2 linked regions of the Homo sapiens genome follow. The protein of the gene in region 1 interacts with the protein of each later gene in a biochemical or structural test. Each region holds a gene or a part of one and is shown on either strand. Other genes may lie near its edges. The genes, in order: GDF11 and ACVR2B.

Region 1 (4,933 bases):
CCTCTGAAATCTTCCGTCTCCCCATTGACTGGAAGACTTTTCCCAGCCTGTTAAGAGCCCATTGTTTCCAGGCTAGCTTGATCTCAGGCTGAGTGGCTCTCTTTGCTTCAGGAATCTTCCCATTTTCTACCACTGTTCTTCTCTCTGTCCCTCACCCCCAGTAATCTTCTTTACTCCTCACCCTCCTTACCCATTAAACTTTCCAGCTCCTACTGGATAACTGGAAGGATTGGAGAGATTCAGGAATGAAATCTCTAGCTACCAAGCTCAAGTCTGGGCCATCCTTCCTTCTCGGGCCTTGTGACAGTTCATGTGAGTTTGGATTAAAGCAGCCAGGAACCCAGGCAACTATTGTCTTCAGTCTAATTTTTTTCTTCTTGCTTCTTCTTTACAGGCAAAGAAGAGGAAAAGAGCAGAGCGCTTTGGGATTGCCTGATGAAAAGTTCCTGATACTTTCTGTTCTCCAGTGTTTTCCATTTCTCTCCTTCTTCTTGGTCACATATATGCCTAAATGCACAGTCATGTGCCTACGTCCTGCCTCGCAATGAGGGAGCATGTACCCCAGGTACATCCATGAACTGCGGCAGCAGTTTGACTTATTGCTGTTTCAGCTTTAAGGTTGTTGTGTTTTTGTTTTTGATTATGTTGCTTGTTAATAAAAAAAAATAGAAAAGAGAACAATGTGTTTTATTAGGTGCTCCTTTGATTTATTGGAGCTAGATTAGACCAGATAAGGGGAGCTTCAGGGGCAAATATTATAGAGAATTGGCCATAATACCTTTATCCCTTAGAAGAGAAGACAAGGAAAAGGACTGAGTTTACCCTTTAAGCCTGTTTATTCCCTTCTGTCATACTCACAAGCATTTTTTATCCTCTGTGAAGAGGTTAAGTTACCCACCCACCAAGTCTTTGCTCCAGCAGCTTGTAGTGACCCACTGAAATAAAACAGAACATGGGAGGTTTTAGGTGTTGCAAAGGATATAAATACAAGGGCAGTGATTAGTAGCCTTCTGTTATTAGCTAATAATGCAGACTTTTTCTTGGATAAAATGGAGTCCAGGGTCCCACATTAAAGGAAAAGGGCCCTGATTTCAAGGGTGATGTGATACGATACTATGTTGGTCAGTCAGTTCAGGAAGGGAGATGGGCTGGATATCCCTCAGAGACAGAAGAAATTTTGTATGCAGAATCAAAGCATGACAGAGGATGTCAGAGCTGTTACGCATTGTTAGCTAAATCATTGGGAACATAAGCAGTGGAACTGGAGGCTTCAAGTTCATGTAGATCTGAAACCTGCTTAATCTTTTTGGATATGTTATTGCAGAATTTCTCCTCTTAATCTTTATATAAGCTCGGTTTTTGTTTGAGCTATTTTTGGTAATAAGACTTAGGAGCCTGACACCTTACCTGAAGACTTTGGTACTATGATCAGGTCCCATGTTGCTGTGGTGTAATCCTTTATCCTTATTTCTACTAAAACCTGCCTGGTTTTGTGCTTAATGAAATGGTAATAGTTTGATCACCTTTCTAATGTCAAGATATCTCTTTATTTCTCCAAAGTCTCTGGTTGGTGAGGAAAGCAGGGACCTAAAGTTTAGATAATTTAGAAAAATTGTGCCTTGGAGAGCAGATCCAAAAACTGCTGCCCATTTGTTGTGAAGTTTGCCCCATTCTGAGACTTTGGAGAAGTGAACAAAAGGGAATGCTGGTTAAATTTTTGACACCTCTTCAACCAAATAAACCTTAAAATTGGAATGACCTTCCCTTTTCCCTCTTTTCTGTCTGCCTTCCTTTTCTTTACCTCAGGCTCTGATCTTGGGGCTAGCTTTTCCTCTCTCTACTCTGCCTTCATCTGAAAACAGAATAGATCTGATTTGTAACTTGAGAGATTATAGATTCACTAATGGTTTCTTCCTGAATATGGTTTTAAAAAGAGAAAAATACATGAGGGAATAGAGCAGATGCTGATTATGAAGTGGAACAGTGGATCTTTTGGAAGTTTTCTTCGTCTCTTTATCCTCTATAACCTTCCAGAAAGATATTCAGCCTTACTTGCCAGGATTCTCTTCTTGAAGCCTAATTATTCTCCTCACTCATCTTACTTCCCCTAGATCTTTGAACAGTGTTTTCCAATTTGTGAGGATTTTTTTTTTTTTCTTATTAACCTCTTTCATCCCATTTCAGCAGCTGTTCCTATGTTGGTCAGAAGTCTCTAACCTCCAAGCCAGATGAAGTCCTCCCCTTCCTATCTCATTATAGTCATTCTCCACATACTCTTTGAGCATGAATAGTTCAGGATGCCTTTTTCCCAATTCAGTTTTAAAATAGTAATTCCGTTTGGAGATGGAACAGACATTGAGGCTTGTAATTGTTTACCTGAGATCTTAGTACCCTTCCTTCCTCTCCCCGTTTCCCTACTATAGTTGATCCAGCATCCAGATGTGGTTAACTGATTCCAATTCCTGAAGCTGTGACATTCTCTGCATACCTGGAAGCTCTTAATGAGGGAGTCTATAAAAGCTGTGGGGAGAACTAGCTTCCTCAGCTGTAAATCTGTACTTTTTTATGGTTCTCTAGGATTATTCTTTTTTTCCACTCTCACTCTAAACTGCCCAGCCCCCCACCCCACCTCTTAAGAACTGCTGAAGATAGAGGCTAGAAGCTTCTGTGAGGATGAGGGCTATAGGAAGGAAGGTGTGAATAAGGGCAGGACTTCTTGGTGTTGAGCTGAGTTCTCTTGCTGTGTCTGATATGAGGAGTGAGGGAGGAACTTAAGGGAGGATAACTTTTTTGCTGTTCTCTTATATGAGGGCCTCTGGCAATGCCACTTATTTCTGATTATTGGAATCCCCCCAAAATTTAACCTCCCCTTCTCTTGCCATATCTAGACTTTTCTTGTTTTTCCCTTCCAAAGGGATTTAAAATTACAGGTTTCACATCTTTCCAGATTCTTTGAGTCCAAGGTGTCCCTAACTTTCTTGTTATCTCTTTCCCTTATGTTATTCCTGTATTTAGGTTTCTACCTCCCGGATCACTTTCAATAGGATAGATTAGAATGTAATATTGTTTAGCAACTACTTAGGTTTAATTTCTTATTCTACCACACTAGCTCTGAGACCCTGCGCAGATAATCATTCTCTTTTCAGACTGTACCAAAAGGAACCCCATTGTGAAGGTTGCTGTGTGAATTAAGTGATATTCTCATATCATGTATTCACACTACAATTTGCTTACCATAATTTGCATAGTAATTATTCAATAAATATTAGCTTTTACTGGGTGATCAGGGTACTGTGGAAATACATATTTCTTTCCCTGAGTAGGTTCTAGCTAGGTATGAGTGCCCTAGTTTGAACATGTTTGTGTGTGCATACACCCAGTTAATGCAGTCGTATTTTGAGAAAAAGAAAAGGCAGAAAGAGTCCCATTCACTCCCTCAAGCCCAGCTCACTGGCAGGAAAGCTGGACATTGTTGCTTTGGAGCATTGATTTTCCTGCTTCTACGCCACTACAGACCAGAAGCTGTAGATGCCACTGCCTGCTGATTCTTAGCTTGGGGCCCCTGCCATTTAAAATATAGGCAAGGTCAGAGTATAGGATAGCTTCCCATGCCTTCGGTTGGAGGATGTTTTAGGATAAAGAAAAGACTTGTAAAAAGTCATCTTGAGTAGTCTTTTTTTGGGTGTTCTCTCAATATAGGAAACAAATGAGCCACAGGGAGAGAAAACCCATTTTCAGCTCAGGCCAAAGTTAGGGGTAGATGTGGATATGGTTCCCTTGGGAAGATAGAATACATAACACTTCTGCTACTCAACCACTTCCAGCCTTAGTCTTGTAGTTGGTCTCGAGTGGGGTCAGTGTGCTGATAGAACTGATAAGACAGGGAAAACATGGCAGTACATTGAACCCGCAGTAGCGCTGTCCCCAATTCTGGATCAGGTTGATGTCACAGGAGCTTTCCTTATTTTTATTTTACTTTAATTATTTTTAGAGACAGTGTCTTACTGTGTTGCTCAGCTTGGAGTACAGTGGCTATTTACAGGCCCAATTATAGCACACTGCAGCCTTGACCCTCTGGCCTCAAGTGGTCCTCCTGCCACAGCCTCCTGAATAGCTGGAACTACAGGAGCACACCACTGGGTCCTGCTTTCCTTTTTTTTTTTTTTTTTTTTTTTTTGGAGATGGGAGTCTCACTCTGTCACCATGCTAGAGTGCAGTGGTGCGATCTCAGCTCACTGCAACCTCCGCCACCTGGGTTCAAGCGATTCTTCTGCCTCAGCCTTCCATGTAGCTGGGATTACAGGCGCACGCCACCACGCCCGGCTAATTTTGGGTATTTTAGTAGAGATGAGGTTTCACAATGTTGGCCAGCATGGTCTCGAACTCCGGACCTTGCATGATCCGCCCGCCTCGGCCCCCCAAAGTGCTGGGATTACAGATGTAAGCCACTGCGCCCAGCCAGCTTTCCTTATTTTTGAAAAATGTGAGTCAGGCAATATTCTTTTGCCATTCCCAACTCATATTCCTGGGGAATTGTGCTCTAGGTACATGGGAAAAATTTTTACAGTGAACTGAAAGAATATTTGAGATGCTATTTTAGCCACTCTTGTGTAACAAGGCAAGTTCGTTGGCTATGTTGGTTTAGATTTTTGTCAAACTTCGTTGAGGAAACCTAGGAACAGGGACTGCAGGAGAATAGGACACTAGCTGGATCATCTCAAGAGAACCTTTAGATCTTCCATACTAGCTGGATCATCTCAAGAGAACCTTTAGATCTTCCATTCTGTGGAGGCTGGGAGAGGGGTCTTGTTGTCTTTGGGACTGTTTTGGCTCAAGCTTTTCAGAGAGGGGTTGTTCTAGGTACCCCCAGTTTCCTGTCCTCTTTCCATCCTTCCTTGGCCTGCATGTCCCAAACCTTATACCACCATGCCCT
Region 2 (7,290 bases), on another chromosome or scaffold:
TTAGTTGTGTTGTCTTGTAGTAAGTATATTTTAATGTAAGTTGGCTTTTGTGACAAGGAAGTTTAAAAGAAATAGAGAAAAAGAAAAAAGTTTGCATCTTCTAGGGAGTGCTACCATTTTTGTTTGATAACGCCCCCTTGTAAATAATTGTCATCAACTGTAGGTTGGCTGTCTGGGCCAAGTCTGGGCATTTATCAGTCTTGTTTGTGAAGGCTTTTCCTTCTGGTTTCTTTAGATCATTTTATTTAAAAACAGTGCATCTCTTCATCGTGAGGGTAGGCAAGGCGGGGGCCGTGGGGAGAGGTTGACCTGGGTGAGAACTGAAGAGGCCGCCTCCTCTTGGGTTGTTTGGAGCTTCACATGTAATTCACATGTAACATGTAACTTGATCGGTCAGTGTTCAGAATGACAAGTAACCCCGCTTAAACTTGGTAGAAGGATGGCCCTTAGACCTGAATGGGGTGATTTTACTTGGGATTTAACTTCTTCAGCAAATTAACAGCAACGTTGGAAGAGATCTGTGGCGCCTCTGTGAAGCACACCGTGACTCAGGCCAGTCTTTTAGTGCAGCGTGTCTGGGAGTGAAGGGTTTTGCCCTTGCTGGTCTTGGAGTCCACAGTGTGAGGGGCACTGCACATGCCTGGGCATCTACCTAGTGTGCTATGTTCAGTGTCTGGGGCTTACTGCCCCGGGGTCCTTTCCTCTGGGTGTTGGGGCACAGGGTGCTATGGGAGGCCCATTTGCTTCCCTCTCGGAGCTCAGTTTTTGCTTCATGGGTCAAAATGTGGGCTGGCCAAGTGGTTACAGGAACAGGGTTTCGGTAAGCTATGTTGTCTTTTTTTTTTTTTTTTTTTTTTTTTTTAATGGTTTGATTTTGTGCTGTGGTATTTTTTTTCCCTTAGAATAATTTTTAATGGCAAAACAGGCCTTACAGCAGTTGCTTTTCTTTACCATTTATTTCTTTAAGAAGCTTTAAAATATTTATTGAAAAGTGCCATATCTAATTTCTTTAGCTTTCGCCTCAGGCAGTGCAGGCATCTTTACTTTTCATCCTCAGAAGAAACAAACGACTAACAAATGTAGCAAATTTACTGCAGGAATAGTTAGGTCATGATACTACCTGAACACTAAACCCCAGCCTCTTTGTTTGGTTTTAGTTCCTCTGGGTGGTTTTTCTTTTGTGTGCTGGCTTGATTCTTGTGAGAAGTTTTGACCTGGCCAAGGGAGGGTTGAGCCATGGTTCTGGTGTGGGACTTTGCGGTCAAGACACAGTACAGACAGGTCAGGCCTGCGTGCCTTTTCTCTGGGTGGCCTCCCCGTTAGGCCCACCGTACGCTCAGCCACTATAGTGTCCCTGTGGGGCCTTGCCATCAGATTGTGTGTCAGGAGATGGTACCTTTTTGGTGTGGCTGGGGAGGAGTGTGGTCCATGCCAGTTCTTTGGGCTTCAGGCCACTCTTCCCCTCATGCTGTGGTGTAAAGTGCACCCATCAGGTGGTATATCTGGTTCTGATGGCAAGAAGAAGGTGGGGGATCTCCTTATAGGGCATGGGTCTAGGAGCACAGATGGGCCTTTTGCCCCGGGTAAATGCTTGTCTGTTTGCTGTCATGTGTTCTTTGAGGAGTGAGCCATCTCGAGCCCTGCTTTGAATTTACTGGGTCATAGAGCCTCTGCCTGTGCTCTTTTCCATAATGACTTCATGTGACATGCACTTTTGGTGGGCTCAGATAATTGGTTTCTTTTTGTTTTTGACCTCAGGCTCTGTGGCAGACTGGGGAAAATGGGGCCTGGCATCATTTTCCCTGTCAATGGGAGGGGCTGTTCCATGCAGGGTGGGAGGGGACCAAGTTAGCAGAGAGTAGCCAAGGATCCTTGCTTCTTCCTTTCTAGTGTGCTGTCATCCAAGCAGGCTCCTGGCTGTAGGGATGGGCCTTGGGGAAGAATCTTCTTTGAAAGCATCTATGATAACTGAGAAGTCATCCCTAGTTGGAGAAATCCAGTAATGAGCAGAAGGAGGAAGCAAGTGAGGACAGAGGCCATTGTATTACAGTGTCACGCAGAGGGCCCTCAATGATGGGGCATTGGGGAAGGCTGTAGACATAGTCATCAGAACATCCTGGCCTGGCATAAGCTGGGTTTTCTCCTGGGACCATTGGTCCTCAGCAGGAGTTCTTTGCATGAGTTGCTCAGGGGCAAGGGCTGCAAGTGGGCTGTGCTTAGGAGAAAGTGACACCTGGCAGTGAGGGAAGATGGTGAGCATTATTAGCCTTTGTTGTCCAGCATGGCCTTCTTGTCCTGTCTGCTCTGGAGAGGAGCCTGTGGGACCAGTCCTGCCTGGGGAGGGCATACCCACACGTGCCAGCTGATTCTGACTCTGAATACATCATGTCCGGACTTGGGGGTGTTTCTGCAGAAAAAGGAGGTTGTTTTTCAGCCTTGAACATCTTCAGGAGGATAGAGACTCTTGCTCACATATTCTTAGCAAAGGGAAGGGTCTCTCATCTCCAGGCCACAGAGATAGTTCTTCCATTGCCCTAAGAGGCTAGGCTAACCCTCTTGACATAACTTAGACAGCAAAGCACTTCATCCTGTAGTTGGGCTCTGTCACCTTTCTCTTCAGTTGGCCACATTCTCGTTTCCTCCATCCTGCTATGCTTTGTGTGCTCGGGCTGTGTGTGGGGTTTTTCCCTGGTGGAAGGAAGCCCAGCTGTGTATTGAATGTCCTTCATGTGTTGTGTGTGGCTCAGAAAGCCTGTCACTTGGCCCCTGTGCTCTGAGCCGTGAGGGTGGGGAGGTGGCTGTTCCATTAAAGTGGGAGTATTGGATGGCCCTCTTGAAACTAGAATTTTGCCTTTTTTAGTATGCAGTATAAAGTTTCCAGCATCTATTGGTAACACAAAGATTTGCTGGTTTTTAAAATAATACAGTAAGCATAAGTATGTAAGTTTTTAGAATTGGTACTAGAAGTTGGACAGCTAGTTATTCTCGAGAACTTTATTTCACTAGAAAAATATACTAATTGGAAAGCAGTTTCCAGGAGTTAACTCAGTTTAATTTTCAGTCTCAGTTATTTTAGCCTGTTGAGTTTTTGATGGCACACCTTTGGAGAGATGGCCACGCCTGATTCCCATTTCAGGGGCATCAGACCATACCTTTTTAAGAAGCTCCGTGAATCTAGTCATCTACCCTTCATCCTGGGCGAACAGCCAAAAAGAGAAGGGGACAAGGTGTCTTTTTCTCCTTCTCACTGGGGTGACATGAATTCTTTTAGTTAATGGCTGTTTGCAAATTCTAAACTAATGAAATACTTAGCAGCTAACATGTTCAATCTAGTAATGATGAGTTTAAATCTCAATTGACAGTAATGTTTTAGATAAACAGGCCCAGTAATTCAGTTGATGAACTGTATATCTTCTCAGTCTAGATTTGTAAATGTTTAATGAATTCAGGGTTATAAGCATAGTTCTTTAAGTAAGATTCCAGATAGTTGATTTGCAACCAGCAGTCTACCTATGAATGTATCCCAAACCTTTAGAAGATTGGAAAAGATTTTTGAAATAATGATTTAGTTTTGTAGGAAAAACACCCCCTTGAAAATTAATTCGGTTGACCCAGTAACATTTTTTAAAACAATTGGTGGCTCCAAAAGGCCTGCCAACAAAGAAAAGTCCAAATTATCTAGTGGGACATTTTGAATGTTTTATGTTTATTTTGGGTCCACTGTAAACTTTGGTTCAAAAAAGAATTTGAATTTAAAGAATTTACCATTATTTAAATTATTACCAAGTTTTTACATTTTCATGATGGTATTTTCCAGGTATGAATGAAACATGACTTTTTGATTGTGGTACTTCCTGTATCCCCTGTAGTGCCAAAACCAGTGATACTTTATTTGCTCCTATGGCAGCTCATAGAGGTAACCGAAGTGATTTTTCCTCAGTAATTGAAACACATATTCTCTAAATGCCAATGTGTGGTGATGGGCCCTGCACTGCCTTCATTTCTCTAGGGCAGTGTCTTTGGATTGTCTAGGGCCTAGGTAATTCTGAGAACTACTGTAAACCAACCACAGGGCACTAAAGCAATGTACACACCACTCTTTGTGTGTATGGAAGGGGTTATATAAACCTGGGCTATGCTGGACATCTACAGAAGAGTATTACATTCACTTGCAAAGTTTACATTTTTGAGCTCACAGTTATGAAAAATATGACCCACAAGTTTTTCAGGCAGGTGAGGATGGGTCTTCTTGCAAATGCATGAGTTCTGTCTTGAGTCCTGGGAACTTCTCTGTTGGTTGAGTGTGGGCTCATTCCCTGACTCTCCTAATCATGTTTGCGTCAGAATGTTAGCATTGTAAATAAAAGAATAGGTTGTATAATAGATACACAACACTTGAAACTTTACTTTAAAAAAATCGATAGTTCTACATATATATTTAGTTATATCACTTGACAGATTTCTTCTACACAGTGTGGAGATTGTTTTATACCACAGATTATTTTTATAAAGTTAGTGAATTTGAATGATTTTGTAATCAGAGCTAATGAGCTTTACCTTTCAAGAGAAACGTACACTGGAGCATGAGTGGTGTGGAACTTTTACTTAGTGTTTATATGGATTCTTGTGATACACTGGCAGACTGGAGTCAATTTGCGGGTCTTTTTTGGCCAAAACTCCACTTGTGGTTGTGTAGGACAGTGATATTCAGCTCAGCTTCTTGTGGATTGGGAGGAGAGAGGGCCTGCAATGTGTTTTACATTGGTGCTTCCTCCTGAGATTTCTGTTGAACAAAGGGTTCTGAGGTCAAAAATTAGTTTGTAAGCCTTTGCCATAGGACATAGTCATGTGAGAGTGTTTGGGGGAACAGAAATTGTATAGGGGTGCCTATTGGGGTGGGATGGGACTCGAATAAGATTCAGGTACAAAAACTTTGAAATGAGAATCTGGTGGTTTGAGTAATCCACCAGACTGAATTATCTAAGATCACATTATCCAGGTTGGGGGGCAGAATTACCCAGTTAAGTAATTGTTCAGAAAAGTGGGGAGGGTGGCATGTGGATGCAGTGATCCAATTAAATGGAGAGCTGCCAGGCACATTTTGTCCTCTCTGGTCAGTGAGAATGGTTGGGTTGGCTCGCTGCTTCAATCTGTGGAATCAGCCAGGAGCCCAGTGAGGAAGCTCAGAACCCCAGTAACAGCAGAGCATCTTTCAGATAGCTCCAGAGTTTTCCTGCTTTTCTGAGGAAGCTCAGCATCACTGCCACAATACGGAAAGTGGTCTTCATTTTAGCCTATTTATTTTTAGGCAGAGAGTGGATGGTTATTTGTGTGGGACTTTTGGTGGCGATATATAATGAATAATTAAGTTAATTTCTGGTATGCATAATGGCCAGTCCTGAGGCCCAGCTGAAGACCTGTCCCCCAGACCCTGCCCGCTGGCTTCAGGCTGCTGCTTCTAGACAGAGGTGCACTGGACGGGATAGTTTTATCAAGAGAATCCCTAATGTGTCATTTTAAACCAGCTGTGCTTTTTATTCATTCTGGTTGAGCGTATAGGTTTACACTTTACCCTTTTTATACTTGGAATAAATTTAGTTCCAGCAGATCTAGTAGCACTCCAGAAACCAACCCCATCTGTTCCCCATAAAAAGAACATTTTCTCTGCTCTCCAGCCACGTGTCTTGGAATGTAATTCTGTTGTGCCTTTGTTTTTATCACTCTCTTCGCCCCAAAAGCAACTGCTGTAAGCTTTTTTCTACTTGTCTTTTCTAGTCCCCAACCTCTACCTTTTTCCTTTTTCCCAGCCCTAATTTCTGGATGCACTTCTGTGATCCAGGTATTTTAAGAACCAGTTACCTCAGACCTCATGTTGAACAGTGTCGCCATCTGGGTCCTCTTGATACTGCAGACTTTTAACGTACACATGCAGGAACCCTGCTGAGCGTGGGCACTTGTTTTAAAGCAAAACTCTTCCCAAGGACTGAAGAAAGGGCTTCTGGCAAGCTCGTCATGGCATTGTGGTGGGATGGGTCTAGAGTGTCATCTGAATGGTGCTTCCTGTGTTCCTCTTTGAATTCTGCCATTTTCAGTATTCTTGTGTGTCTGAATAGGCAAAGCGATTTAATTGGCTGGTCTTGCACGCAAATTAGTTCCAAAGATAAGCTCTTTGTAACACATTTCCAGTCGCTAATGCTCAAATGTAGAACATTCCTTTAAATGGCAGGATAAAAAACCCACTATCCACCATAGTGCATTTTGGGAAGATGTCTGTAGCATATGTTGCTGTGAAATTAGGCCTTGTGGGATATGGCTGTTTGTCATTTTGATGTATTTTAAATAAATATATATATTTTTTAAAGAGCCTTTTTTACCAGTTCAAAAAGTTTAATTAACCAGCAGTCACCGCATCTGAATTTTTGTCTCTGGGGCATAGATGGCAGACCAAGATTAAAAGTGGTAACTCAGCTATACGAGCATGGGCTACCTTCCTGGGCTCTCCTGCAGTCCTGTAGACCTGCTGTTCCGCAGACCATGGGACACAAGGTCAGTGTGTTCCCAGTGAGGGTCCCAAGTCAGTCATCTTAAGTGTTTGTTCTCTGCCCCATTCAGTGGACTGTTGACTTCAGTCCCTGCAAGTGCTTTAGCCCGAGTGGGGTTTTCTCAGAGCACTGCCACGAGTTAAGTGTGTGTTTAGCCAAATAATTTCTCCGTAAGGGAAAAATGCAGTCACCCAAATTTTACCAACAATGACAGAGATGAGAGTAGAAAAGATTAGGCAACATCTGAGTTTTAACTTGAAAAGTGTCCAAGTCATCATGAAAGGCCGACTGGGAGCAAGTGATTATTAGAGATTCTTCAGGAGACCTCATCTGAAAATGTTAAGACTGCCAGTGAGGGAAGGAATTGTTAAAATGCCAGCGGCTTTTTTTTCCTCTTTTTTTCTGTAATTCTGTAAAAATGCAGAGAAAGTTGAGTGGTACTTCAGAATTGAGGGAGAGGGTTACCGCAGAGTAGAAATATATTTCTAGATTTCAGTTCCACACCACAAATCCACAACAATGCCATTTTTCAACTGTACAAAAATCTGCTTATGAACTGGACATGATCTTAATGGTAGTGTCAAAGGCCAAGTTTTTCACCTGTTAATATTTTTCCACATTTGTCCTTGAATCTGAATAACTTTATACAGTACTGTAAATTTAACTTACATCGAGTTTGTTGTCAATTCTTATGAAAAGAGCTTTCTGCATGTAACACATACGGTTAAAGAACACAGCAAAGGACAAA

The links.
Region 2: the proteins of GDF11 (region 1) and ACVR2B interact in a biophysical measurement, tested with the Homo sapiens proteins (one study listed by IntAct).

Annotation. Positions count from the first base shown.
Region 1 is NC_000012.12:55,753,015-55,757,947, reverse strand, and holds the end of GDF11 (growth/differentiation factor 11 preproprotein), read right to left. Parts: 3' UTR 684-4,933; downstream 1-683. Other genes in the region: SARNP (SAP domain-containing ribonucleoprotein), read left to right, coding at 395-436. UniProt on the Homo sapiens protein: Secreted signal that acts globally to regulate anterior/posterior axial patterning during development. May play critical roles in patterning both mesodermal and neural tissues. It is required for proper vertebral patterning and orofacial development.
Region 2 is NC_000003.12:38,484,832-38,492,121, forward strand, and holds part of ACVR2B (activin receptor type-2B precursor), read left to right. Parts: 3' UTR 1-7,290. UniProt on the Homo sapiens protein: Transmembrane serine/threonine kinase activin type-2 receptor forming an activin receptor complex with activin type-1 serine/threonine kinase receptors (ACVR1, ACVR1B or ACVR1c).